2 linked regions of the Homo sapiens genome follow. The protein of the gene in region 1 purifies or fractionates together with the protein of each later gene. This does not show direct contact. Each region holds a gene or a part of one and is shown on either strand. Other genes may lie near its edges.

Region 1 (3,500 bases):
TCAAGAGATCCTCTTGTCTCAGCCTTCTAAGTAGCTGGGACTACAGGCTTGTGCCACCACACTTAGCTAATTTTTCTATTTTTTGTAGAAACAGGGTCCCACTATGTTGTCCAGGCTGGTCTCAAACTCCTGGGCCCAAGGAATCCTCCCACCTTAGCCTCCTGAGGAGCTGGGACTACAGGTGTGCACCACCATGCCTGGCTAATTTATTTTTTTTTTTATAGAGACAGAGTCTCACTATGTTGTCCAGGCTGGTCTTGAACTGCAGGGCTCAAGTGATCCTCCCACCTCGGCCTTTCAAAGAGCTGGGATTACCACCATGAGCCACCATACCCAGTTTACAATTCAGTTTTAAATATTATATATGCCAAGGTGGGAGGATCGCTTGAGCCCAGGAGTTTGAGACCAGCCTGGCCAACATAGCAAGACCCTGTCTCTATGAAAAAAAAAAAATAGAAAAAAGAAGAAAAAGTACAAAAATTAGCTGGGCATGTTGGCATGTGCCTGTGGTCCCAAGTACTTGGGAGTCCGAGGTGGGAGAACCAATTGAGCCCAGGAGTTTGAGGCTACAGTGAGCTATGATCACGCCACTGTGCTCCAGCCTGGGAGACAGAGCAAGTAGCCTCTAAAAAGAAAAATAAATAAATAAAAATAAATATTGGCTGGGCACGGTGGCTCACACCTGTAATCCCAGCACTTTGGGAGGCCAAGGCAGATGGATCACCTGAAGTCGGGAGTTTGAGACCAGCCTGGCCAACATGGTGAAACCCTGTCTCTACTAAAAATATAAAAATTAGCTGGGTGTGGTAGCGCACACCTGTAATCCCAGCTACTCGGGAGGCTGAGGCAGGAGAATCGCTTGAACCTGGGAATCAGAGGTTGCAGTGAGCTGAGCTCGCGCCACTGCACTCCAGCCTGGCCACAGAGCAAGGCTTTGTCTCAAAAAAAAAAACTAAATAAAAATAAATATCATGTATGCATATATAGTATATATTATGTAATTTACAAAGTACACAAGGACAACAGAGAAAACTGTCCTTCTCACTCCCATCCCCAGCACCCCGTTCTCCTCTGGAAGGAACCAGAGTCCCCAGTTCCTTGCGTGCCCTCCGGTATTTTACACGTGCACAAATATGTAGAAATCCTCTTTTACCTCACTTCAAATTATTCATAAGTAGCAGCACAGCAGACACACCAGATAAACTCTGCTCCACCTGGGCACACAGAGCTTCCTCAGCGGGGTTTTTTCAGTGGTTGCATTGAACAGATGCACCTCCATTTAGTTAATCAGTATCCTTTTGCTGGGCTCCTTGGTGGCTTCCAATCTTTTGCTATGGCAAGCAACGTGGCAAGGAATTGCCTTCTACTTGTGCCATTTGTCACCTGTGCCAATATTAAAAGCCACAAATTCTAGAAGCGAATTGCTCAGCGAGGCAGGGGAAAGCACAGGCTTTGGAATCACGCAGACCCAAGTTCAAATCCCAGTCTGCCTGTTTCAGTGCTGCTGTATTGAGCTGTATTTATCTGTAACTTTTTGTTTGTTTGTTTGTTTTTTGAGACGGAGTCTCACTCTGTTGCCCAGGCTGGAATGCAGTGGCGCGATCTCGGCTCACTGCAACCTCTGCCTCCCGGGTTCAAGCAATCCTCCTGCCTCAGCCTCCCGAGTAGCCGGGATTACAGGCACCTGCCACAATATCTGACTTATTTTTTATTTTTATTATTTTTTTCGTAGAGATGGTTTTCTCCATGTTGGCCAGGCTGGTCTTGAACTCCTAACCTCAAAAGACCCGCCCACCTTGGCCTCCCAAAGTGCTGGGATTACAGGTGTGAGTCACTGCACCCAGCCTATCTGTGACATATTGGTAATATAAGTTCAGGAGAGGGAGAGAGAAAGAGGCAGGGATTGAGACAGAGCAGGAGAGGAGGAGAGAAAATTTATATGGCTCAGGCAGTCTGATCCCTTCTGTTCCCCCACAGGGAGACCCACAGCAGAGACATGACTCACAGGTGGCATCAGGTCCCTTTGAGTCTCTCTGGTGGGAGAATCTCAACCCACAGAGTAGGATTCCAGTGTTCACATGCATTTTTGGTACTATGAGGCCTCTGAATGTCAACCCTGTCACCTGAGACTCTGTTGAAAAACCAGCCGCGGCCGGGCGCGGTGGCTCACGCCAGTAATCCCAGCACTTTGGGAGGCCGAGGCAGGCAGATCACAAGATCAGGAGATCGAGACCATCCTGGCTAACACGGTGAAACCCCGTCTCTACTAAAAATACAAAAAAATTAGCCGGGCGTGGTGGCGGGTGCCTGTAGGCCCAGCTACTTGGGAGGCTGAGGCAGGAGAACGGCATGAACCCAGGAGGTGGAACTTGCAGTGAGCCGAGATCGCGCCACTGCACTCGAGCCTGGGTGACAGAGTGAGACTCCATCTCAAAAAAAAAAAAAAAAAAGAAAAAGAAAAGAAAAACCAGCCTCCTGTTCTGGTGCTGCAGGGAAACAGGCCTGGCCACAGCCAAGGGTGCAGATTTTCAGGAAGCATTTTTAAAAATATATATATATATATATACACATATATATATATACAGAGAGAGAGAAGCCACTGAGGCCCACAGAATTTGCATCATTTTATTCCTTGTCCAAGGTCACAGGACAAGCAGAGTCCCACCCACCTGAAAGGATTCAGTTCTAAGACAGCCTTTAGGGCAAAAAGTCACAAAGTTGATCTATCTATCTATCTATCTATCTATCTATCTATCTATCTATCTATCTACGTGTTTGCACCCTAATCACTGGCAGTAAATGCACTTTTTTTCTTTTCTTTTCTTTTTTTTGAGACAGGGTCTTGTTCTGTCACCCAGGCTGGAGTAGGTGTAAAATTGGAGAATCCATATTTCTTTCCTTGTTTTCAGATTTAATGCTTTCCTTTTTCCAGCAGGTCTCCTTCGTCCATCCATCCATCATCCATCTACCCACCCACCCACCAATCCATCCATCCATTCATCCAACCATCCATCCATCCATCATCCATCCACCCACCCACCCACCAATCCATCCATCCATTCATCCAACCATCCATCCATCCATCATCCATCCACCCACCCACCCACCAATCCATCCATCCATTCATCCAACCATCCATCCATCCATCATCCATCTACCCACCCACCCACCAATCCATCCATCCATTCATCCAACCATCCATCCATCCATCATCCATCCACCCACCCACCCACCAATCCATCCATCCATTCATCCAACCATCCATCCATCCATCATCCATCCACCCATCTATCTGTCCATCCACTCTACCCTACCATCCATCCACCAGTCCATCCATCTATCCACCAATTCATCCATCCATCCACCCATTCGCCCATCCATCCATCCACCCACCCATCCATCCATCCGTCCATCCACCCATTCATCCATTCATCCATTCACCCATCCATCCATCCACATATCTTCATCTGTGTTGTGTGTCTGTGTATCCATGTTTCTAA
Region 2 (3,500 bases), on another chromosome or scaffold:
GTATCCTTGATCTGTCTTGCTAGAGGTTTGTCTTTTTAATTAACTTTTGATATTGAAAATTTCCAAGCATACATAAGAGAGTGTAAAAAACTTGCAAGCACCCATTACTCAACTTTAACAACTATCCATATTTTGCCATATTTTTTTTTTTGCCTTATCTTTTTAAGAAATGTCTTATAGAGTGGGTGAGGTGGCCCATGCCTGTAATTCTTGCTCTCTGGGAGGTGGAGGTGGGAGGATCACTTGAGGCCAGGAGTTGGAGATGAACCTGGGCAACATAGAAAAACACTGTCTCTCTCTCTTTCTTTTTTTTGAGATGGAGTCTCACTTTGTCACCTAGGCTGGAGTGCAGTGGCGTGATCTTGGCTCATTGCAATCTCCACTTCTTCAGTTCAAGGAATTCTTGTGCCTCATCCTCCCAGGTAGCTGGGATTACAGGCATCCACCATCATGCCTGGCTAATTTTTGTGTTTTTAGTGGAGACTCCCAACATGGGGTTTTGCCATGTTGGCCAGGCTGGTCTCAAACTCCTGACCTCAAGTGATCTGCCCACCTCGGCCTCCCAAATTGCTGAAATTATGCACCTGGCCAGAAAGACCCTGTCTGTACCAAAAAAAGAAAAAAAAGTAGCGAGCCTATGGTCCTAGCTAACTCGGGAGGCTGAGGTGGGAGGATTCCTGGAGCCAAGAGTTCAAGGCTACAGTGAAATATGATTGTGCCCCGACACTCCAGCCTGGGTGACAGTGCAAGACCATGTCTCTATAAAAGATAGAAATAAAAAAAAAATCACTTCCATACAAAACTATAATATTACAAAATTAACAATAATTGGTTAATATCATCTAATAACTACTCCATAATAAAAATTTTCCCTATTGGGTAAAAATATATAGTGCAGTTGTTCTAATTGGTATCTAAACAAGTTGTACTCCTATTTGGTTCCTACATCTCAAGCTTTTCTAAATGTCTTGTAATCTAGAATAAGGGTTGACACATTTTTTTCTGTAAAGTGTTAGGTAGTAAATATTTTAGGCTTTGTATACCATGCTAAGTCTCTGTTGCTTATTCTTCTTTCTAAAAAACCCTTTAAAAATGTAAAACCTTTCTTAGTATGAGGGGCATACAAAAACAGGTATACTTTTGTCCACAGGCCATCATTTGTCAACTGCTGATCTGGAAGATCCCTCCTCACCATTTTTTTCTCCTTGCCATTGACTTGTTGAGGAAACTGGATCATTTGTTCACATTCTGGATTTTGTTGTGGTTTCCTTGTAGTGTCTTGTATTTTAATCCTCACATTTGTATTTTTGGTAGTCACAGTGTTTGATCTATAGGCTCAATTAGATTTAGTTTTTTTTTTTTTTTTTTCCTGTTGCGGGGAGTGGTGCAAGAAGACTTTAGTGATGCCATGTACATTCCATTGCATCACATCAGTGGATATGTAAGATAGGATTGCTTCACTTTTAATGGGTTCAGTTAATGTCCACCGATACTGTGTCCAACAAACTTACTCTTTGGTTTTACCATTTATTTATTTCTTGAATCAGTTACTTAATTATGGGTTACAACATGGTTATTCTCGAATTCTCTCATTTCTTCTGTATTTTTAAGTTTGATTCTTTTTTGTAGAATTGCTTTACTCCATCCGTTAGGTCTATTTAGTTATTCTGATAGATAGTTCAAATTGGAAAAGTAGGATAAATGCTTACTCTTTATCAATTTTTAGAGTAATAATTGGTACCCTACTAACCTCCATTAGTATCCAGTTAGAAGTTTGGTTGTTTTATTAATTTTTTCAAAGAACTAGCTTATATTTTGTTAATTTGTCATTGTTGTCTATTTTGTTGATTTCTGCTCTTGACTATTTCCTTCCTTTTCATGTGTTTGGATTTATTGTTTTTCCCCCCAAGTTTCTGAATGCTTAGCTTATTGGTTTTCAGTGTTTTTGTTGTTGTTGTTGTTTGTTTTTTTTTAATTATACTTTAAGTTCTGGGATACATGTGCAGAACATGTGGGTTTGTTACATAGGTATACATGTGCCATGGTGGTTTGCTGCACCCTCAATCCATCATCTACATTAGGTATTTCTCCTAATGCTATCCCTCCCCCAGTCCCCCACTCCCCAGCAGGTCCTGGTTTGTGATATTCCCCTCCCCTGTGTCTATGTGTTCTCATTGTTCAACTCCCACTTATGAGTAAGAACATGCAGTGTTTGGTTTTCTGTTCCTGTGTTAGTTTGCTGAAAATGATGGTTTCCAGCTTCATCCATGTTCCTGAAAAGGACATGAACTCATCCTTTTTTATGGCTGCCTAGTATTTCATGGTGATAGTATTTCCAGTCTATCACTGATGGGCATTTCGGTTGGTTCCAAGTCTCTGCTATTGTGTATAGTGCTGCAATACACAAACGTGTGCATGTGTCTTTATAGCAGAATGATTTATAATTCTTTGGGTATATACCCAGTAATGGGATTGCTGGGTCAAATGGTATTTCTGGTTCTAGATCCTTAAGGAATCACCACACTGTCTTCCACAATGGTGGAACTAATTTACACTCCCACCAACAGTGTAAAAGTGTTCCTGTTTCTCCACATCCTCTCCAGCACCTGTTGTTTCCTGACTTTTTAATGATCACCATTCTAACTAGCATGAAATGGTATCTCATTGTGGTTTTGATTTGCATTTCTCTAATGACCCGTGATGATGAGCTTTTTTTCATATGTTTGTTGGCTGCATAAATGTCTTCTTTTGAGAAGGATCTGTTTGTATCCTTCGCCCACTTTTTGATGGGGTTGTTTGTTTTTTTCTTGTAAATTTGTTTAACTTCCTTGTAGATTCTGGATATTAGCCCTTTCTCAGATGGATAGATTGCAGAAATTTTCTCCCATGCTGTAGGTTGCCTGTTCACTCTGATGATAGTTTCTTTTGCTGTGCAGAAGCTCTTTAGTTTAACTAGATCCCATTTGTCAATTTTGGCTTTGTTGCCATTGCTTTTGGTGTTTTAGTCGTGAAGTCTTTGCCCATGCCTGTGTCCTAAATGGTATTGCCTAGGTTTTATTCTAGGGTTTTTATGGTTTTGGGTCTTACGTTTAAGTGTTTAATCCATCTTTATTTGATTTTTGTATAAGGTGTAAGGAGGGGGTCCAGTTTCAGTTTTCTGCATATGGCTAGCCAGTTTTCCCAACACCATTTATTAAATAGGGAATCCTTTCTTCATTGCTTGTTTTTGTCAGGTTTGTCAAAGATCAGATGGTTGTAGATGTGTGGTGTTATTTCTGAGGCTTCTGTTCTGTTCCATTGGTCTATATATCTGTTTTGGTACCAGTACCTTGCTGTTTTGGTTACTGTAGCCTTGTAGTATAGTTTGAAGCCAGGCAGTTTGATGCCTCCAACTGTGTTCTTTTAGCTTAGGATTGTCTGGCTATATAGGCTCTTTTTTGTTTCCATATGAAATTTAAAGTATTTTTTTTTCTAATTCTGTTAAGAAAGTCAATGGTAGC

Evidence for each region. Proteins that work in one complex are often made in the same cells at the same time.
Region 2: the proteins of HNF1A (region 1) and SNX14 purify together in Homo sapiens (affinity purification with mass spectrometry, with the first as the bait; one study listed by BioGRID). This does not show direct contact.

What each region holds. Positions count from the first base shown.
Region 1 is NC_000012.12:120,985,043-120,988,542, forward strand, and holds part of HNF1A (hepatocyte nuclear factor 1-alpha), read left to right. Parts: intron 1-3,500. UniProt on the Homo sapiens protein: Transcriptional activator that regulates the tissue specific expression of multiple genes, especially in pancreatic islet cells and in liver. Binds to the inverted palindrome 5'-GTTAATNATTAAC-3'.
Region 2 is NC_000006.12:85,583,859-85,587,358, reverse strand, and holds part of SNX14 (sorting nexin-14), read left to right. Parts: intron 1-3,500. UniProt on the Homo sapiens protein: Plays a role in maintaining normal neuronal excitability and synaptic transmission. May be involved in several stages of intracellular trafficking. Required for autophagosome clearance, possibly by mediating the fusion of lysosomes with autophagosomes.